Homo sapiens: one gene and its partners. The protein of the gene in region 3 interacts with the protein of the main gene of each other region in a pairwise test. Each region holds a gene or a part of one and is shown on either strand. Other genes may lie near its edges.

What was found.
Region 1: the proteins of UTP14A (region 3) and ATXN10 interact in binary tests that used the Homo sapiens proteins (3 or more experiments, as listed by UniProt).
Region 2: the proteins of UTP14A (region 3) and DYNC1I1 interact in binary tests that used the Homo sapiens proteins (3 or more experiments, as listed by UniProt).

Annotation. Positions count from the first base shown.
Region 1 is NC_000022.11:45,842,131-45,846,680, reverse strand, and holds the end of ATXN10 (ataxin-10), read right to left. Parts: intron 3,691-4,550; coding exon 3,503-3,690; intron 3,013-3,502; coding exon 3,010-3,012; 3' UTR 1,374-3,009; downstream 1-1,373. UniProt on the Homo sapiens protein: May play a role in the regulation of cytokinesis. May play a role in signaling by stimulating protein glycosylation. Induces neuritogenesis by activating the Ras-MAP kinase pathway and is necessary for the survival of cerebellar neurons.
Region 2 is NC_000007.14:95,774,851-95,783,426, reverse strand, and holds part of DYNC1I1 (cytoplasmic dynein 1 intermediate chain 1), read right to left. Parts: intron 1-8,576. UniProt on the Homo sapiens protein: Acts as one of several non-catalytic accessory components of the cytoplasmic dynein 1 complex that are thought to be involved in linking dynein to cargos and to adapter proteins that regulate dynein function.
Region 3 is NC_000023.11:129,900,734-129,910,128, forward strand, and holds the start of UTP14A (U3 small nucleolar RNA-associated protein 14 homolog A), read left to right. Parts: upstream 1-5,430; 5' UTR 5,431-5,477; coding exon 5,478-5,503; intron 5,504-6,530; exon of another isoform or gene 6,531-6,633; coding exon 6,634-6,709; exon of another isoform or gene 6,710-7,326; coding exon 7,327-7,397; exon of another isoform or gene 7,398-7,820; intron 7,821-7,936; coding exon 7,937-8,001; intron 8,002-9,395. UniProt on the Homo sapiens protein: May be required for ribosome biogenesis.

The DNA.
Region 1 (4,550 bases), on a different chromosome or scaffold from region 3:
GGAAGCAGAGGTTGCAGTGAACTGAGATTGTGCCACTGCACTCCAGCTTGGGTGACAGAGCAAGACTCCATCTCGAAAAAAAAAAATCATTTAAATAACACTTAAATGCCATGTGTTATCAGGGCAGCACATGAATGACTTCAAGAGAGAATGGATGTAAGATGCACACAAAAAAATTTGATTTAAAGACGTATTAATTGGTAGCCCAAATCATCTCAATCATTTTTTCTATATCCTATTTTGCAAATGACATGTTTTAGCAGTTTCCAAAGCCCTATGCTTAGATTGTGAAGTTACTGAACAACAACAAAAAAATGCATCTCAATGTTAGCTCCTAAAAACAAAAACAAGAACAGAACCACAAAATCAGGACGTTGTATTAGTGCGTTCTCATATTGCTACACAGAACTCCTTGAGACTAGATAATTTATAAAGAAAAGAGGTTTAATTGGCTCATGGCTCTGCAGGCTATACAGGAAGGATGGCTCGGGAGGCCTCAGGAAACTTAGGATCATGGCAGAAGAGGAAGCAGGCATGTCTTACACGGCTGGGGCAGGAGGACAATGAACAAATATTAACAAATCCTAACAGTTTAGTAAGTTGGCCCTTGAAATCTGTGGAGTATTGGTTTCAGGAACCCCCGCTTGGATGCCAAAATCTATGGATGCTCAAGTCTCTGATATGAGCCTTCACAGTATTTGCATATAAACTACCCGCATTCTCCCACATACTTTAAATCATCTCCAGATTACTTGTAACACCTAATAAAATGTAAATGCTATGGAAATAGTTGTTACCTTGTATTTTAAAATTTGTATTATTTTTTGTTGTTGTACTACTATTTTATTTTTCCTGAGTATTTTCAATCCCCAGTTGGTTCAATCTGTGGATACAGAGAGCCGACTGTTTTAAGATTGCAAAAATAAGTATTTTTGAAATCTTCACATCCATTGTTAAGGTATTAAAAAATAATCACTCTGCAAATACTTGGACTCAGTATCAAGCTGAGAAGCCTTCCCCTCTATCTTTTAAAGTGAAGCCAGCTAAAAGCTTTGTCAGCTCGCTCTTGAAAGCAATAATATGGTCACAAAACTTGCTGTGACCATTCTGTCTCTTTACAAATTTTGTAAGGCTGGCCTGCTTTTTTCTTCCTTCTAAATGACTGATTGAGGTGATGATTAATCCTCTATAGCATGTAAAACAAGGTTCTCAGGAGCTCCGAGTCCTCCACGGTAGAGGACAGGGAAGCTGTTGTGCTCAAGAATTAATCCATCCGAGGGAATCAAAGGCAGCCACAATGCAGTCATCAGCATGTTTTCACTATGCAAGCCCCACACTTCCTACTTAGAAAACACATAACCATTACCCCATTCTGTATTCTCACAAGGCTCCCTTTTATTTATTTGTGTTTGTTATTATATAGCTCATACCGACAAGTTTGTGCGATTCCACTGGTGTGCACACATCCATTGAGACAGGAAAAAAAGAAGTGTCTATTGCAAACTTGTTAAAAGGGAAAAGGGACTCCCACTGTTTTCTCCCTTTGGCCAGGCTTCTATTTAGAGGACAGAGCTTTAACTCTTTATGTCCCAGGAGAGAATGACTCCTTTGTGTAATTTTAAATTCTGCAATGGCTTCTTTACTGATGGAAAGTCATAAATGAGAGAAAAAATGTTATTCATAGATTGCTGCAATCCTAGAAGCTGATGTGTCTTCAGAGTTACACAGAGTACATTAGACAGCACATGGGAAAACTTTTACTTCATTCTCAACATGCTTAAGCTATTTTTACAAATCAGTTAAACTATGTCTACACAAAGCTTAGAAGCACTTTATTTGGGAGCAATCAGTATTTTTGTCAAAACTTTTGGACAGGTCTTTATTTTTGTTTTGGAAGGTTCAACACGAATTGTGCAAAATCTCTGGATATATTAGTTTAGCGATATGGTTGTTGAAGAAAATAATATGTTTTAAGCATTCACAACGTGACCTCCCCCTAGAGCTTTTGTTGATGATATGAATGATCTGGATTCAGTGAGTTCAGTGGTCATTTAATCCAGTCCTACCTCTCATACAGCAGACAGATAGATAGATGAACAGACAGACAGATAACTAGATGTCAAATAAACTCCTGCTCCCTAAAAGTACTTTTGCAATTTCAGTGAAGACATGGCTAAAACTGAGTGGCACCTTTATGAGACTGGTGCTTTTTAAATCAAAGAAGATAGAAATGTACCTTTAATCTACGGCACTGCACCAGAGCAGAACATAAGCTATTCCTTCCCCCATGACAGAGGCATGAAGCTGGGGAGGACACAGGCATTCACCTTGACACAGAATGGGTCCTGGGATGTCTACTTCTGGGATGAACTGGAACATGAAGAGTTAAGTGCCCACATGTTCTCTCACCAACCTCACTCCCTGCCACATTCCAAAGGGATAGGGCTCAGTGACAAGACAGCCCAGTACCCAAAATGAAGAGGGAGGGTTCTCGAATTAATTAACTGGAAATGAGTCTTGTCAATGTTTTGGAAAGGCAGAGGGGTGAAAAGAGATTGCTAGAATTAATCACAGTGAGAAACTACTTCAACCGCCTGCCAGAGTTCAGAAAACCCAATGAGAAGAGGAATATAAAGAATGATGCTGACTTGCCATCTGAAGGGACAAACACAGTCAAGCCAACATCCAAGTTTTGTCAAATAAGGGTTGTGCCCTCCAAGAGACTGGTTTATTATCTGCTGTCACAGTAAGTACAATATATTCTTTAAATGCACGTTCTATCCAGGGGGACAAAGGCAAACCACACAGTTACATTAATGCAAAGAAACAAGAGAACACTCAGTTACTTTCACTTTTAGCTTATACACGTTAAACTCTACTACCTAAAAGATTTGTATGTTCCCAAATTTGTACTTATAAATCTTCAAACACTTGCAATTTCACATACGGTAGAAGATGAAAAATCCATGAAACAGATTCCAAAAATTCAGGTATTTGGATGTAGTTCATTCACTAAAGAAGAAGAAAGAAACAAAATTGCAGATGTAGCAAATCTGTTCACAAGATTCATCAGACAAAAGGGGAAAAAACCCAGAACTTTGGTCAGTGGTGACAAATAACTTAGAGAAACCTAAAACAATTCATGCAATATTATTCAAGGAGTTCTGTTTTTTAAACTATAGTGAACATTAACTATCTTTTAAAGAAAATCTAATTCCTATGAGTAACTTACTTTTAGACCATGTATAACTTTTGATATGCCTTTTGTATTTCTCACCCAGAATGAGTTTGAAATTGTCCCTCTTTTAAGAAAATGGCAGCATAAAGCCGGAACAAAAAAACCGTTTGCAGCTATCTTTAGGGCTTTCCTCGGTAAACCACTATAGAGGGCACAATTCTCCCATCCATATTCTTACAAAGAGCCTCGTGCTTGAAGCAATGGGGAAGTGGAAACAGCTTTCTACAAACCAAAGGGAAGGACAGTTCCCTCGAGGGTACTTACTGGCTTAGGGGTGTCTCTAGTAGATTTCAGGATCAGCTTTTCGCCTTTCTTTTCAACTTCAAAACCCACTTTTTTAAGTAGGGATGCATCTGCCAGCCCCTGTTCCTCCATCTTTGCAATCAAATCTTGGTTTTGGCTGTTGTCTTCGGTAAGGTTTCGGATGGCATATATCACCCACTGGGTCAGAACTGGAGCCAGAGTGAAGGAATGTGACAACGTACTTTCCTGTTTGATAACTTCACATAAGAATTATCAGAAAAGGAGTAGAGGAGCACAGAAACACGGAACATCCAGTATCAATCCACAAGTTTTCTTGAGGATGCATTCTCTGAATATGCATCTCAAGTGCAAACACATTAAAAAGAGGCAACGCAGGCATATGCACATGTACATCCAGCATGTGTGTGTGATGTCCAGCCACGGGCACCCAGAGAGATTTACTCAGTATTTGTTGAATGAATGAACAAGGAAGCAAAGACTTAGAGTAGCTCAAACTGAAGTTTATGAACCCAAGAACACACACACAGGCAAACGTGTGTGCGTGCACACACACACATTCCTTTGTTGAATAATTATGTTACTGACTCACTAGGGAAAGAATAAGAAGAGCACTAAAGAATCAGTCACAAAGACGTCAGGTTAGAATCAGGAAAATCATCTTGTTTTAATGGGAGCCCAGTTAGAAATAAGAATTGTTTCCTAGGAGTCACTGTGGAATTTCCCGCATTCAGTATTCTAAAGATGAAGCTGGAAGGGCTTTGAAGGATTTGCTGTGTTTAGTTTGAATACTCAGGCTCCTGAAAGCATCGGGGCTCACTGTGCCCAAGTGTTCACCTGGCACGTTCCGCTTGGCAGGAGACCAGAGACAACCTACGAAGACTGGGATAGCATCGCCACATCACTGAGTAGGGCATTTGATTTAATCACCAAGAGCCATGTAAACCTCATGCAAACATTAAGCTATTATATGTAGTTCTATAAAGGACTGTACAAAAACTACTGCAGGGACCAGTCTTCAGTGGTTGGATCCAGGGACATATGTAAGAGA
Region 2 (8,576 bases), on a different chromosome or scaffold from region 3:
CATTTTCATGTGCCCACCAAGCACTCAGTCTCACTCATGGCTGGCATTCCATAAGTTCTAAATGAATATTCTTGACTAGAATTGAACAACTACGGAAGGAAGCTAATTTGCACCCCATATGTATTTCTTTTATTCATTATCAGTAAAATTTATATTTGTAAGCTCAGTTTTCTGGGAACCTGTTATTCCTTATGATGCTAAAATCATGCAAATGCATTTTATATTTTAATGGGCATTCATTCAGGTGTTAGTGATATGGACAGGAGGCAAGGAAATACTGGGTAGAAGAGGGTGGTTCCCAGCAAACGCTCCACCCTCAAGCCTGGAAACCAACGGCCCTAAATGGGAACAGGCATTTCTGTTTTCATGCCCAAATGTCGCCTTTTCTAAAACCACTCTGGTCTGCCATGCCCCCATCCTGTACCCACAAAAACCCCAAACCTCAGGCTCCATGAGCAGAAGAGTGGCAGAGTGGCAGAGAGGAGCACCAGAGAAGGATAGAAGAGAAGGGACATCTGAACATCGAGAGGAGTTCGGCTGGGGAAGGTCAGAGAGCTGACTGGCCACAGGATGGCTGAACTCCAGGGGCAGATCATCTTCCCACTCCATCCCCTTTCCAGCTCCCCATTCATCCCACTGAGAGCAACCTCCACCACTCAATAAAACCACTATGTTCACCATCCTTCAAGTCCATGTGTGACCTGATTCTTCCTGGATGCCGGACAAGTATGCAGGTACCAAGAGGACAGGGTTAAAAGGCTGTCACCTTATCTCTGCACAAGCTGGTTTAATACTTAGCCATCTACGGACAATAACTGCTAAAAGAGCATTAATTACAATGCATCCCTCGATGCTACCATGGGGCTGGGGCCCAAAAGTGCTCATTCTGGCTCCTGCACCTGCCTGTCTGCATGCTCCCCATCCCATACAGGGTTTGAGCATGCAGTGGCTGAGCAAATGAGCAACACCTCTATTGCAAGTCCCACAAATGGCTCAGGGAACTCTCCCAATTAACTTGTAGAGTTGGTGGCTGAAACCACTACATATGTGGTTACATATCAGTCAGTGTCCCTAGGGGTGCCCCATAGAGACTGTAGTTATTAGCAGGAATAGGCAGACTTCATGGAAGTCCTTCCCTTCCATAGTCATTTGAGTTTATTACGAAAATTCCAGTTCCCTTCCCATAGGACTACACTTAAGGATGCCACTGTAGTCAGGAATGGCCACACAACTGCTTTTGGCTCATGAAACATGAGTAGAGGTGTCATATGTCACTTCCAGGAGGTTTAATATGCAGTATGCAATTTACCACAGGGATTGTAAAAGTATATATCAAGAGGAAGCCTCATGCAGCATGGGCCTCTGAGTGAACATGGTGAACACAGACCCTTGTTGACCCACACTGGACATGTAACGTGGCCAAGAAAATTTTTTTGTTGTGTTGGTCCACTGAGGTTGGCAGTTATTTTTTGTTGCATCATGACACAGCCTAGCCTGATCAAATTCACTCCAATGAGTCGGAATTCTGGTTACTTTTCACCTTCCCTGACAGCGTTGACATCTTCAAGCACCCCTCCTTTACCATCCCCATCTTAAAGTGCTATGGAATGCCCCGTGAGGAGGGTGTAAAGAATAAGAAAGTACTAAATGTCATTATTAACCACACAGTCTCCAGAGCATGTGCCCTGGTTAAAGCAACTTTCTGTATTTTCCTCCAGGAAGTTTAGAAAACACTTTTTCCATGTGCTGCCCAGATCTGCCTTTCCAGCATTTGGGAAGGTAGCGGTGGTGTTGACAGTGTTATAGGGTGATGTTTCCAGTACCCTGACCCATCGTCAAAAATGAACTTTTGCCCAATTTACTGAGAAAAATGGCTCAGTCAGGGCAGACTATACCAGGGAAAGGGAGCACTCAAAGATAGTATATCTTCCTCCTCCTCGACAATAGTTTTGTAACCAACTTTTCTATCTACTTTAAGGTCTCTAATTTATTGTCTTAGAATTTTTTGAACTCACATTTCTTCATTTTTAAAAACAAGGGATACTCAAGGAAAATGAGCACAGTTCCCCTGGCTTTAAATTCTCTGGCATAAGATATGGGATTTCACCCTTGCTTGATATGCCAATTACTTTTCAGCAGCATTTGACAAATATTAAAAAGCTTAAAATAGGAGGCAAGAAAATGTGTAAATATTCAAAACCCCAAATCTGGCCTTTTACAGTGTCCCTGGGTGGTCCATATTTGCATTGGGAGATTTAGTTTGGCATTTTTAACTTACCCAAATAGATTCTCATTTTCCTCTGAGCCTGAAGGCATTCAAAGAGGGAGGATCCTCTTTCCAAATCAGCTGTAACCTATACCTTCTGAAAGTGAACAAAGTCACACTTTTCAAGGAAGCCGGCAGAGAAGGTTTTTTTTTTTGTTGTTGTTATTCTTTCTTCCACAAAATACACACCAATTCCCACAACCTCTTGCTATATTGATACTAACGGGCAGATGGTGAAACAGTAGACGCACGGTCGTTTTAAAAGGGAACATTGTGTCAAAACACACATTCCCCACAGGGCCTGCTTCCTTTTCCATCATCCAAACCCACCAACTGACATTCCACAAGTTGGTTCTGAGACAGAGTCTCAGGGTCATCCCCTGCACTCAGGCTCATTTTAACATTCAACAACTTGATAAACATTTAAAGACTTCCACATGGTGTGCTGTAGGATCTAAAACTGCATTCAGAAAGAGAGGACTTCTTTCCATTACAATTAGTGAAGTCTTCATCTTGACAAAGAAATGGGTACTATTTCAGGTCAGAGTAAACAATCTAGCATGTATTCTAAAAGGGAAAGTGAGGCCGGGCGTGGTGGCTCACACCTGTAATCCCAGCACTTTGGGAGGCTGAGGCAGGCGGATCACGAGGTCAGGAGATCGAGACCATCCTGGCTAACATGGTGAAACCCCGTCTCTACTAAAAATACAAAAAAAAAAAAAAAAATTAGCCGGGTGTGGTGGTGGGCGCCTGTAGTCCCAGCTACTCGGGAGGCTGAGGCAGGAGAATAGCATGAACCCTGGAGGCAGAGCTTGCAGTGAGCCAAGATCATGCCACTGCACTCCAGCCTGGGCGACAGAGACTCCGTCTCAAAAGGAAAAAAAAAAAGTGGGGGAAGTGATTAAGTGATTGTAGGCAAAGGATGTATAACATTGTGTCATCATTTATTCATTAGAATGAATGAATATTTCATTTATTCAATGAAAATATACTCATTACTTCGCTTCACTTTGGACATTAGAATAAAATATAAACCTGGTAAGGAATCAAAATGTCCCTTCTACCAGAAAGAAGCCAATGTACTGGACTGCTCATCGGACAGTGTCAGACCAAAGCCAGACGAAAAGGATTAGCCTAAGGGGTTCAAAAAGGAAAACACCAGATTCAAACCATGCTGCCCGTCATTTCTTCAATGAAATATTGTCCTCCTCAAGACTCCCCTTCCCCCAGCAGAAATGCTCTGCATGATCCTGATTCAGGAAAGCAAGACTTCCAGGATTCTAGGTATTACCAAGCACACATTCATCTTGGGCACAGACACAAAATGGGCGCTACATTTCAGGAAGTGAATGTTTTTACTAAACACATTAAAATGCTCCAAGGGGAAAAAGAACTCAGTCTTATAAGAAAAGGAAAATTAAGTAGGATTTATTCTGGCTAATATTTCAGGTCAACAAAAGCTTGTTGAGTATTCACCATGAGTAAGGTTCTCTGCTGGAAGACACAATGATGTCTGAAGGAGCCTAAAGTCTAGGAGAAATACGAACGTCAATGAGTAAATTCAAATCAAGACAATTTTTTGTTATAAAAAAACAAAGCATACCTTTGGTTCAAAGGAAGGCAAGATCACACACATCCCAGATAAACTAGAGAGTGACATAATTGCTGTTTGATCGTAAAAAGAATTATGGTATTTAGCATGTACCATGACTGGGGCCTGTACACTGATTGTCTGCAATCCTCACAATAACTTTGCAAGCCAGGCATCATTTTCCCCATTTTACAGACGAAGAAACTGAGGCTCACACAGTCAGTAAGTGGGATATCTGATCTCTTCTTCTCATTACTTTATCATGCCTCCTAGATGCTCTTAGATGTTGTGCTTTTTACTATCTTGTAAAGACAAAAAAATTGACTTAAATTATTTAAACAGGGAAGATTTCAATGAGAAAACTAGAACTTCTAAAGCAGAGTTTCATAATTTCGGCATCATTGACATTTTGGGTCAGATAATTCTTTGTTGTGGAAGCTGTCTTGTGCTTTGTGGCATGTTCAGCAGCAGTCCCAACCTCTACCCACTAGATGCCAGCCCTTTTCCCCAATTGAGATAATAAAAAATGTCTCCAGACATTGTCAAATGTCCCCTGGAGAAGACAATTGCTCCTGGCTAAGAACAACTGATCTAAAAACTTGCTGGGGTCAGGTGCAATGGCTCACACCTGTAATCCCAACACTTAGGAGGCTGAGGCAGAAGGACTGCTGGAAGCCACAAGTTCAAGACCAGCCTGGGCAACACAGCAAGACTCCATCCCTATGAAAAAAAAAATTTTTTAACCAGCTGGTGTGGTGGGACATGCCTGTAGTCCCAGTTACTTGGAAGGATGAGTTGGGAGAACTGCTTGAGCCCAGGAGTTGGAGTTGCAGTGAGTTATGATCATGCCACTGCTCTCCAGCCTAAGCAACAGAGTAAGACCCTGTTTGTAAATAAATAAATAAATAAATAAATAAAACTAAAAAGAAAAGAAAGCACTGGAATTAGCCCATCTTGTACTGAAAATCATTAAATAGAAGAAAGATAAAAGACAGCTATTCCCAGTCACCACTACTTGAGAGCAGAAAATGGGACCAGCCTCTGTGCAGCTCCTTCTGGCCCTACTCACCTCTAATTTGAGTCCCATACACAAAAGGCAATGGGCCTGACTGCCAGTAGCTGTGCCACACTGACCCATAACACACAGCACCTGTGCTAGATAAATGTGCAATCTTCAAACTGGCATTTGCATACCCCTGGCCTCCACAGTGGCTTTCTAAAGAGCCTGCAGGCAAGGGAAAAGTTAATGGCATTAATTTCCAGATCCGCAGCTTTTGCCTGTATGTTTTCCTAAAACTATCTACCGGAGAATGTGCCTGTGGTTGTAGAATTATTCGGGGCCCCTTTTTCCATCTCCATTTTCACAAAATGCCTTCTGCCATATAAGGTTAAAGACAAATATAAACTAAACAAACAAACAAAACCCCAAGAAATCCCAAATTTTACTGTGGTGCTTAACTGCAAGATATAAAAACATCCCTTTGTGAAAAGAGCTTCTTCACATACATTTTAAATTGAAGTTGGTATTTAGATTTTAATTGGATTCAAAGAATGATGTCACGGTTTTATTTTTAACTGTCAAAGTTTACAACATTCTGAAAATCACATTAATTGTGATTCTATAAATTTATGATGAAAAGCATTAGATGTAACCTTAAATGTGTGGAGGTGATGGAGCTGCAGAATTTTTAAAAAATTCTTGAGGGATTATAAAAGAGAAAAAAAAATGTTGGAAGAGCACTGAGTTAAAGCATAATGAAGCACACTGGAACGGTTACCAGGCAGGTCTGTTGATCAAGTACAATCGTCCTCTATAGTGCTTGAGATTCATTATTTTTATTATGAATACCCTCAACTCTGACCGAAATTTCTGCTTTGTGTGTTTGCCACATTGATGGCATTAGCTGTTCTGAACCCCCAAAATGAAACAGTGGGTTGTTCTATGCGATCATAGCAAGAATATAGGTAAGCGGAAAACTGTTAGCGCTTAAATAATAATTTGGAAGCAAGAACAGCTGCTAAAGAGGATTTCAAGACCAGTATGAACTGAAAACTAAAGAGCACGTAAGTCATCTGGTAAGTAGTGCCCCTCCCAGGATTTAGAAGCAAGTCAGTGTTCCGGATCATGACACAGCTGCTGTATCAGGGAAGCCTCAGAGGACAGAACAGCCTTAAAGTAAATTCATCTTTGCAGTGAATAAAGTTTTGATTTACAGTTACCCCTGCAAGATAGTTTTCAGGCTGTGTTAGGTGGGGGCTGCTGTGCATTTGGTACTCGGCAAGACACCTGGCGATGGGGGAAGCAAAAGTGTGGAGTTTCAACTCACCTTAAGTTAAAGCAGGGCTTGCTTTTCTTCTGCCACTCTGGGAGACATACAACTTGTTGTTGTTCCTTTGATAATATTTTAGGCTTTTCCTATCAGTGTGTGAACATATTTCTTGAGGGACTCTTAGTCCTGCCACAATAAAAAGCTACACTAAACAATACTTTTTTTGGTGTCCCACACAGGCAGAGAAACTATGAGCTATGGTAGGAAGAGAAGAAACAGACTTTGGAATCAGGCCCACCTGCATTTCAAATCCAGCCCTTCCACTATCTGGCTCCATATGGCCTTGACCAAGTGACTTAATCCCTCCAAGCATCTCCTTGTTTGTCAAAGAAAGAGAAAAATGTCCACCTTACAGGGATGTTGGGATGATTCAATGAACTAACACATCTATAAAGCACTGATTATGCACAGGGGAGATTCTCAATGAATGACAAGCCAAGCTAGGACTGCCTGCCACGCCTGGAGGCCTGACTCAGTTGCAGGCCTGACTCAGTGTCAGTTGATGTTTGCTATACCTGCCACCTGGACTCCTGGTGAAATGCCACAAAAATGTCCTGATAGCCAAGAACATTTTATTTTTGGCTGCCACTGGTAGGATAGCTTGGCTTTGTCTTCGATACATTTCAGCAGAGTGACCTCTGCTCCTCTCCCCTTTTTTAAACAGCATATGTAAACCAGTGATTCTTCCTGTATTTTTAGTTAGCAATATCCCCATTTTTTCCCTAGAAAACTACATTTATGCACAAATGCATGAAAATTTGCCTCAATTTTAGTGGGTTCAATGACCATCTGAAAACCATTCGTATGCCTCCCTTTTACAGTATCTATGGGTTTTTGTTTAAGAAGGTTCCTCCAACAAAGAATCAAGGATGTTTTATGAATATGTGAGCTCATGAGGATTAGCACCTAGGCAGAGGTATCTATGTTACGATGGAAACTTCACTCTGAGATTCTGGGGCCAGGCCTCACTCAGAGAGGAATCAAGGAACACAAGTCCAGGATATTGATGAAAAGTCTCTGTCAAGAGGAATAATTTTTTTCTTTTTTAAGACAGGGCCTTGCTCTGTCGCCCAGGCTGGACTGCAGTGGTGCAATCTCGTCTCACTGCAACCTCTGCCTCCTGGGCTCAAGTGATTGTCCTGTCTCAGCCTCCCGAGTAGCCTGGGATTACAGGCACGAGCCTCCAGCCTGGTCTCTAACTCCTGGCCTCAAGTGATTGGTCTGCCTTGGCTTCCCAAAGTGCTGAGATTACAGGTGTAAGCTACTGTGCCCAGTCAAGAGGAATAACTTTTACATGGACCTCGTCAAGGGTTTATACATTGCAAAGAAGAAAAATGAGAGTTGAATTAATTTGAGTTAACTCTCAAAACAAAAAAGTCAACTCTAGAAGTTCCTAGTTCCAGCACAGTTCCCAGGAGAATATATGTTCTCACATGCTCTAGGGGATGCAGAAGCCACAAAGATTTCTAGTAAAAGAGATCCCTGATTAAGGTAGCAACTATTTACACAGCATTTGAGATCCACAAAGTATAACAGCTACTTTCATTAAGGAGACAAAAACAATGCCATAATTTATTTTAAGGGGCCATGGGTCTACTTTGAGTGTGCATATATTATTCACAGTTACCAATCAACTGGCAAAAAGTGCGGCTATACTTGTGGCTTTAAGAAAATAACAATGGATCACACTGAAATTGGAGAGCAAACCTGAAAGATACAGACATACACTCGCTTTTTTGTCTCTCACACAGCACAATAGCCAAAATGGATGGGTCCTAGTTTTAGAGTCTTTGGAGAGATCTCATTTGAATCCTACCTCTGCCATTTATTAAATGATGTTGAGTATGTCATTTAACTCATTTAATTATTTGGAAAATATGGATAATAATGTCTACTTCATAGGATTAATATAAGAATTAAAATGAGATAAGAGAAGAGCTTGGTATTCAATATATGAAAATTAACCAGTGTAATTGTTTCATAGTACGGAAGAGAGAGGTTAAAACTCCTGGCCTGGAGTCAGGCCTTGATTCAAATGCTGCCTTGCTCAACTTAGTAGCTGAGCAAAAGTTACTTGACACCTTTGTGTCTTAGTTTCCTCATCTGTAAAACAGGATTACAAACAATATCTGCCTCATAAGATTTTTGTGATGTTTAAATAAGTTAACACCTGTGAAAGTATTTTAAAATGCAATGCCTGGTAAAGTGCTCAATATATTTTAGCTACTGTTATCAATCTTTGTTTCAAGTGTAGGGAGAATAAAGTAATGAAGGAATATATTTGTTTGAAACAGATTTTGAAACAGATGCATGTGACCTTTTCATTTGATGCTACGTTAAACAACAAAGAAACTGGAGAAAACGGTAACAGGATGAAGCCGGTGCACAC
Region 3 (9,395 bases):
TGAACTCTTAGACTCAAGCAATCCTCTGGCCTCAGCCTCCCAAAGTGCTGGGATTACAGGCATGAGCCACTGTGTTGGGCCCATGTTATTTTCTTTTCTCTCTTTCTTTCTTTCCTTACTTTTTTTTTTTAGACAGATTCTCGCTCTGTCGCCAGGCTGGAGTGCAGTGGTGCAATCTCGGCTCACTGCAACCTCCGCCTCCCGGGTTCAAGCAATTCTGCCTCAGCCTCCCTAGTAGCTGGGATTACAGGCGTGCCACCACGCCTGGCTAATTTTGGTATTTTTAGTAGAGACAGGGTTTTGCCATGTTGGCCAGGCTGGTTTTAAAATCCTGACCTCAGGTGATCCACCCTTCTCGGCCTCCCAAAGTGCTGGGATTACAGGCATGAGCCACTGTGCCCGGCCAGCCCACATTATTTTCTTTGCCTTGAACACTCTTCCCTAGTTCTTCACAAAACTGGCTCCTTCTTATCCTTTAGATCTCAGCTAAAATATTGCATTGGCTGTTCCATAACTCTACATAAGAGGGAAAAGGGGCAGCAATCTGATTAAAACTGTGAAGAGGGAATTCTTAGGGGATCTGTCTCAAAGCTGCATTTGCATAGCAAACACACTGTCTTTACTTAGATTAAGTATAGACCAATAAAAATGTCAATGTTTTCTAAAATGCTTTTATTCATACTTTATATAAGATTAAGAAAACATCATCTGTCCATAAAAATATAATTTGGAGTACCCTGAGGGAAGTGGCAAGTGTTTCAAAGAGGATGGAGAGGCTGACAGGGACTAGAGAGTTTTTCTTATTTTGGCGATAAGGGTCTATTTGCATCTTTTAAGTAGGGGCATGCTGTGGCCTAACTTAAGTGATTAGATGAAGTGAGACTAAAGACTAAAAGGTCAGTAAAATCATTATTATTATTATGACATTTGTTAAGCATTTAATATGTGACAAATACGTTGTCCCTCAGTATCTGGGAAGGATTGGTTCCAGGACCCTCATGGATACCAAAATACAAAGATGCTCAAGTCTGACATAAAATGGTATAGTATTTGCATATAACCTATGCACATACTCTTATATACATGTTTTGTTTTTTTTTATTTTATTTTACTTTACCTTACCTTACCTTACCTTACCTCACCTCACCTCACCTTACCTTACCTTACCTTACTTTACTTTACTTTACTTTATTTTTTGAGACAGAGTCTCGCTCTGTCGCCCAGGCTGGAGTGCAGTGGCGCGATCTCAGCACACTGCAAACTCCACCTCCTGGGTTTTAAGCAACTCTCTCAGCCTCAGCCTCCCGAGTAGCTGGTATTCTAGGCACCCACCACCACACCTGGCTAATTTTTGTATTTTTAGTAGAGACGGGGTTTCGTCATGTTGGCCAGGTCTTGAACTCCTGACCTCAGGTGATCCACCTGCCTCGGCCTCCCAAAGTGCTTGGATTACAGGCGTGAGCCACCAAGCCCGACCTTTATATACTTTAAATCATCTCTAGATTACTTATAATACCCAATACAATGTGAATGCTATGTAAATAATTATACTGTATATTGTTTTATTGTATTCTTAGTATTGTTTTGGGTTTTTCTTTGTTGCTCTTTCCCAAATATTTTCTTTTATTTGTTTTTAAAAATAGAGATGGAGTCTCACTCTGTTGCTCAGGCTAGTCTTGAACTCCTGGGCTCAAGTGATCCTCCCGCTTTGGCCTCCCAGAGTGCTGGGATTACAGGGTAAACCACCATGCCAGGCCTATTATCCCCATTTTAAAGATGAGAAAACAGCCTGGGCGGGGTGACTCACGCCTGTAATCTCAGCACTTTGGGAGGCCAAGGCGGGTGGATCACTTAAGGCCAGGAATTCGATATCAGCCTGGCCAATGTGGCAAAACCCTGTCTCTACTAAAAATACAAAACAAAAACAACAACAACAACAATTAGCCAGGCGCGGTGGCGCATGCCTGTAATCCCAGCCCCTCAGGAGGCTGAGGCAGAAGAACTGCTTGAACCCGGGAGGCAGAGATTGCAGTGAGCCGAGATCGAGCCACTGCACTCCTGCGTGGGTGACAGAGCAAGACTCCGTCTCTAAATAAATAAATAAGAGGAAACAAAGGCACAGAGAGTTAAGGGACTTACTCAAAAATTATAAACTAGGTCGGGCACAGTGGCTCACGCCTATAATCCTAGCAGTTTGGGAGGCCGAAGCGGGTGGATTGCCTGAGTTCAGGAGTTCGAGACCAGCCTGGGCAACATGGTGAAACCCCGTCTCTATTAAGATACAAAAAATTAGCTGGGTGTGGTGGCGTATGCCTGTAGTCCCAGCTACTTGGGAAGCTGAGGCAGGAGAATTGCTTGAACCCGGGAGGTGGAGGTTGCAGTGGGCCAAGATCACGCCACTGCACTCCAGCCTGGGTGACAGAGCGAGACTCCGTCTCCCCCAACCCCCCCAAAAAATTATAAAACTAGTAAGTGACAGAGCTAAGATTCAATCCCAGAGTCCAGCTTTAAAACTCAGGTTCTTCATCATGAAATGTATTTATTCGTTCATTCTTCATATTTCATGAGTATGAAAATGCTATAATGCTCCCCCTTTCTATAAGATTACTGCAATACCACAGGCTTCAAATTGCAAAGGTCTGAACTAATACAATGGCAAACATGATGGAGAAAGGTAAGGAGATATTTGAAAGAGACTCAGGGAAGTAAAACTGATAATGTGGGCAAACAGCTGTGGAGCATAAGGGGGAGGGGAATCTAAGATGACTCTCAGACTTCTGATTTTACTAACTGGGTAGTTGATGGGCCAATCATACAAATGGGAAATTCAGGAAAGGAACTCTGGTGGAAAAGATAGAAATTATTGGTCATTTTATGTTTGATGTGCTTGTGGGGCAAAAAGAATAGCCAGGAGGCAATCAGATATACCAGTCTGGAGCTCAAGAAAGAGATTAGGGCTAGAGATATAAATTTTGTTCTCATACAGCTGTTAAAGGCAATTTCACTTAGGAAGAGTATCTGTAATAAATAAAGAGGGCTTAGAGCAGAATTCTCGGAAACATCATCATTTAGGGAGTAAGCATATTAAAAGTATATTAAAAGCATCCAGCAGAGAAGACTGAGGAAGATGGTCATAGGGCTGATACCAGGAGAGAATGGTGTCATGAAATCTCAGGATGGAGTTTCAACAATGACAAAATTGTCTTTAATCCCACTAGAAAGTAAGCTCTAGGAAGCAATGGGACATATCTGCTTTGTTCACCAATGTATTCCCAATGCCTAGAGGCTTGGCACATACTAGATGGCCAAAAATATTTCATGAATAAGAAAACAAATCGGCTGGGTGCGGTGGCTCACGCCCATAATCCCAGCACTTTGGGAGGCCATGGTGGGAGGATCACCTGAGGCCAGGAGTTCGAGACCAGCCTGGCCAACATGGCGAAACTCCATCTCTGCTAAAAATACAAAAATTAGGCTGGGCGCGGTGGCTCACGCCTGTAATCCCAGCACTTTGGGAGGCCGAGGAGGGCGGATCACGAGGTCAGGAGATCGAGACCATCCTGGCTAACACGGTGAAACCCCATCTCTACTAAAAATACAAAAAATTAGCCGGGCATGGTGGCATGTGCCTGTAGTCCAGCTACTCGGGAGGCTGAGGCAGGAGAATCACTTGAAACAGGGAGGCAGAGGTTGCAGTGAGCTGAGATTGTGCCACTGCACTCCAGCCTGGGTGACAGAGCGAGACTCCGTCTCAAAAAAAAAAAAAAAACAAAAATTAGCCAGGCGTGGTGGCGCATGCCTGTAATCCCAGCTACACGGGAGGCTGAGGCAGGAGAATCACTTGAACCCAGGAGGCGGAGGTTACAGTGAGCCAAGATCGCGCCACTGCACTCCAGCCTTGGCAACAAGAGCGAAACTCCGTCTCAAAAAAAAGAAAAGAAAAGAAAAGAAAAGAAAAGAAAAGAAATCAACAGTTACTAAATGCCACACAAAGTTCTGGGAAGCCAAAGACTGAGAGGTATCCGTTTTATTTAGCAACTTTGGGTGTCGCTGATCTTGTCCAGAGCAATTTCTGTGGAATAATGGGGCAAAAGCAAAATGGGAATGGATTACAAGAATGAAAAGAACGGGCCGGGCGCCGTGGCTCACGCCTGTAATCCTAGCACTTTGGGAGGCCGAGACGGGTGGATCATGAGGTCACGAGATCGAGACCATCCTGGCTAACACGGTGAAACCCCGTCTCTACTTAAAAAAAAAAAAAAAATTAGCCGGGTGTGGTGGCAGGCGCCTGTAGTCCCAGCTACTCAGGAAGCTGAGGCAGGTGAATGGTGTGAACCCGGGAGGCGGAGCTTGCAGTGAGCTGAGATCGCACCACTGCATTCCAGCGTGGGCGACGGAGTGAGACTCCGTCTCAAAAAAAAAAAATGAAAAGAATGTTCTTGTCTATTATTTTTCTACAATCATTAATTAATATATATATATATTAGGCCGGGCCCGGTGGCTCACACCTGTAATCTCAGCACTTTGGGAGGCCGAGGCGGGCAGATCACTTGAGGCCAGGAATTCTAGACCAGCCTGGCCAACGTGGCAAAACCCCGTCTCTACTAAAAATGCAAATATTAGCCGAGCATGGTGGCGGGTGCCTGTAATCCTAGCGACTCGGGAGGCTGAGGCAGGAGAATCGCTTGAACCCGGGAGGTGGAGGTTGCAGTGAGCTGAGATCACGCCATTGCACTCCAGCCTGAACGACACAGCAAGGCTCTGTCTCAAAAATAAATAAATAAAATTCTTAAAAGTTGATGGGAGAAAAAAAGTTGTTTAAAAAAATTTTTTTAAGTTGATGGGAGGTGAGGAAGCGTAGTTACTGATGGCCCCTTCTTGGATAAAAAAAATCTTTTGACTCAGGAAATGAAGAACAAAGCTGCAATTACAAGGGATCAAAGGCGATTTTTCCTTAAATGGAAGGAAACTTGTTATGTTCACCATCGGATCTCCGGGGCCCGGCACAATCTGGCCACTTAATAGGCATTCAATAAACCCCCGAGCTGGCTTGTGGTCGGCTTGCAGGACGCCGTCGCACAAGGACGGGCGCTGTAGTCTTTCCTTCTGGATTCTGCAGTGACGAATGAAGGCGCGGGCTCAGCCCCTGAGAGCGCAGCACCGTCGCCCTAAGCTAACCCACCTTGGGCCACGTGGAAACCAGGGGCCAGGAGGACAGACACCCGCGCGCCAGAGAAATACGGGGTGGGTGGAGAAAGGAATGCCCCACCCGCTGACAGCCGTTTCATCTCAGGCCTCCCAGTTTTCTGCAGGCCCCTCCCTACACGGCTCCTGCTTCTCTCACGCCTCGTACGGAACGGAAGTGACGTGTACGTCGCGAGCGATTGACGGAAACAGAAATTGCTTTGCGGCCCGCACGGAAATTGCTTTCCTTCGGCTTCCGTTCTTGGTCCATGTGAGAGAAGCTGGCTGCTGAAATGACTGCGAACCGGCTTGCAGAGAGGTGAAGGGCAACGAGGGGAGGGGGGATTCTGGGTCTCGTTGGGGGCCGGGTTCCCCAGCTTTTGGGAAATGGGAGCCCCCCCTTTAACAGATGGCAGTGGTTCCCCTGAAGAGCTGGCCATTCGTTCCTATTTTCCGCGATCCAGCCTTTAAAGCCCTTTTAATTTAATTTCATTCGCTTACTCCGCTCCTCAGCTGTATAGCCGCATCCCTGTTGGTCCTGATGCTGTTTCTGCCTCCCCAGCTCATTTACTGTGTTTCACATTTTTCGTCACGTGGCCCCTTTTTCTGCCTCTGTCGCGGCCCGATTTAATCCTCTGCGCAGGCAGTGCAGGCGTTATAAACTCCCCGAATCTTGGAAAGCTTTGCTGATTGGAGTCATCCACCACGTTTTGGCTCCTGTGATGTTTTGTGCCCCCCCCACCCCGCCCCCGGAACTAAATGTAGTCCGTTTAGTAATGTTGGCTTTGCAAATACTAATAATATATGCTGTTAGGTAATGGTACATTTTATAATTTGTTTGTGGGTACCAATCTCCTTAGTTAAGCACCTACTTTACTAAGCAAGCCCCAGGGAAAGTGGCTTACCCAGCTGCTTTCGACCTGTTTCTCCATTCCTGGGAACAAGGATCAAGATAACACTTTTGATTAGGCTGCCTATCAATGAGTCAAATATATGGAGGATGCTTAGAAATATTAATCGTGAAACTGCCTTGCCTCCAGGGCTAGCTAGCAACAGCGTCTTTGGCCATATTATTCTAGGGTCTGACATTTTTACAGCTTCCCATAGGTCATAGGAAATGTTGTGCCAATCCCTGAAAAGTGATAGCTCTTTTACATGCAGTTTTGAAGTCAGGCATCACTCTTGGAGGTGATGCCTGACTTCAGTCTAAATTTCACATCTTGACAAGTTTCCAAAGGCATTCACGCTGCTTTATATATCTTCTGAGGGATAGGGCTATTCTGTGCTGAAATTACAATGTTTTCGAGATTGTTTTAATAGATTAGACATTGCTTCAAATAATAATATTTCTTTTTTTAATTTCGACTTTTATTATAATTAAGGGATACATATGCAGGTTTGTTACATGGGTATATTGCATTCACATTTCTCTGTTGCCTCTTTTAACAGCCTTCTGGCTTTGAGCCAACAGGAAGAACTAGCGGATTTGCCAAAAGACTACCTCTTGAGTGAGAGTGAAGATGAGGTGGGTGACAATTGCTAAACTGCCTTCAAAATTAGGGTAGAGAGCACATTCCTGGAATGGAAGGGTGTGACAATGTTCTATGTATTTGTTCAGGTCTCTCAAATAAATTGCAAATGGTTAGTGTTTCATATATAAGATACTGTATCATATTAAGTGCTATGAGGATTTGGAAACTAAGTTACAATCACTACCCTCAAGTTGCATAAGTATAATTTATAAGACCAACCAAAACAGGCCCGGGTGATGGCTCATGCCTGTAATCCCAGCACTTTGGGAGGCCAAGGCGGGCAGATCACAAGGTCAGGAGATTGAGACCATCCTGGCTAACACAGTGAAACCCCGTCTCTACTAAAAATACAAAAAATTAGCCAGGCGTGGTGGCAGGCGCCTGTAGTCCCAGCTACTTGGGAGGCTGAGGCAGGAGAATGGCATGAACCTGGGAGGCGGAGCTTGCAGTGAGCCAAGATAACACCACTGCACTCCATCCTGGGCAACAGAGCGAGACGCCGTCTCAAAAATAAATAAATAAATAACAAGAGATTTTACATGAGACTCAATTTCCATGTTGTCTTTTCCCTCCCCCTCATCCTGATTGTTTTTCCTTTTCTGTGTCTTAGGGGGACAATGATGGAGAGAGAAAGCATCAAAAGCTTCTGGAAGCAATCAGTTCCCTTGATGGAAAGAATAGGTAACGTTCCCGTCAGTTAGGGCAGGTTATATAGTCAATTCCGTGAGATTTCTCTGCAGCTAATATTTATTGAGTGCTTCATGTAAAGACCTTAATACCAGTGCCTAGCATATAGTAAGCATTATATAATTAACTGTTAGCTGTTATTAGTCTTAGTGCTATTATTGTAAGCATTTGCAGTCTTATTCCACACTGAAAATCTTTTAAAGCATTGAGTAGGCATTATTTAACCCCATTAGAGAAATAAATTTACTTACCCCCAAGGTCACCTGGCTCATAAGTTACAGGTTCAGGTGTGTTTGAATCTAAGTCCAATATGTTTTCCACTATGCTTACCTTGTAATAAAGAGAAGAGATGAGGGTTAGACAACCAAGTCCAAGTTAGGAACAGATCTCCTTGCTGCATCATGACAAAACATGACCCTAGAAGAAATACAAGAAACCAAAGCCCTGTTTGAAGAGAGAAGTGTTTGTCTCTCCCAACCCCAAGCCCCCATAAAATTTATTCATTCCTATTATATCGTTTTGCCTAATTTCAGGCGGAAATTGGCTGAGAGGTCTGAGGCTAGTCTGAAGGTGTCAGAGTTCAATGTCAGTTCTGAAGGTAAGTTGAACAAAGGAAGATACCCATGCATGAAACCTGTGGAGTTCCAAGGGCATTGTGTTCACCTCACCCCCCCTAGGAACTGTTTTTGATGTGGTTAATGACTCATACCATAAATACCTGGGAGAGTGGGTGAAGAAGTGTAGTCAGATGCCCTTCAGTTTCTTCCATCTCTCAAAGAAAGCCTAGAAGGCTGTGGTCAAGGTATCCTACAGAGTTTGATGAGATACTTATAGGATAGATGGACATGAATAAAGACAGCTGCCTCTTAGTAACTTAGTCATAATTCATATTTGTACAATTTCATTTTTATTTCAGTTCTCTTAACAATGCTTTGAGTTAGGAGACAGGCAAATATTCTCTTCAGCCAGAGCTCAGAGAGGTCACATTACTTATTCAAGGGCCTTTGCCTAGTACAGTATTTCTCAACCTTTGCTTTTTTATTGCTCCCCTGAGAGGAGCCTTTCAAGCCTTTTTTTTTTTTTTTTTTTTTGAGACAGAGTCTCACTCTATCGCCCAGGCTGGAGTGCAGTGGTGCGATCTTGGCTCACTGCAAACTCCGCCTCCCAGGTTCACGCCATTCTCCTTCCTCAGCCTCCCGAGTATCTGGGACTACAGGTGCCCGCCACCGCGCCTGGCTAGTTTTTTGTATTTTTAGTAGAGACGGGGTTTCACCGTGTTAGCCAGGATGGTCTGGATCTCCTGACCTCGTGATCCACCCGCCGCAGCCTCTCAAAGTGCTGGGATTACAGGCGTGAGCCACCGTGCGCGGCCTCAAGACATTTTTTTCCTCATTGTATCCCTCCCCCTGTGCCCCTTCCCCAGGAAATCAAGTCCTAAGGAATAAGAGTTTGTTGGACAGAGTTGAGCCTTGGAGGGACACAAAACATTGTAATATCTAAGATTTTTTTCATACTCTCCCAGAAAGAACCAATTTTCACCCTGGGGTGGCGGGGTGGTAAAATTGCCCCTGTTCAGAATACATGCTCTAATAAGCGGCAGCCATGGGATTTTATCCTAATACTGAGTCTAGATGCCAAATCTTTTTCACCCTGTTCACAACTTAGGCAGCTAGAATGGGTCTTGCATTTGTAGTAATCACTGGTGTAGCCTCCTAGGGCAAATAACAATGTATTCCAAGCGTACTTATTCAGTGGATATTTATTGTGTTTCTACTAGGTAGCAGTATCAGGAACTGTTGTAGATACCAAGGTTAAAGTAGCGAATAAGATGTGAGCTCATGGGGTTTACATTCTAATGAAGGGAGACAATAAGAGAGGATGATGCAGTAAAGCAACTAAGTGGCTACTTTAGATCGGTTGGTCATGAAAGGCCCCTGAAGAGGCAAAATTGAAGCCGAGATCTGAATGACAAGTCAAGTCAACCATGCAAAG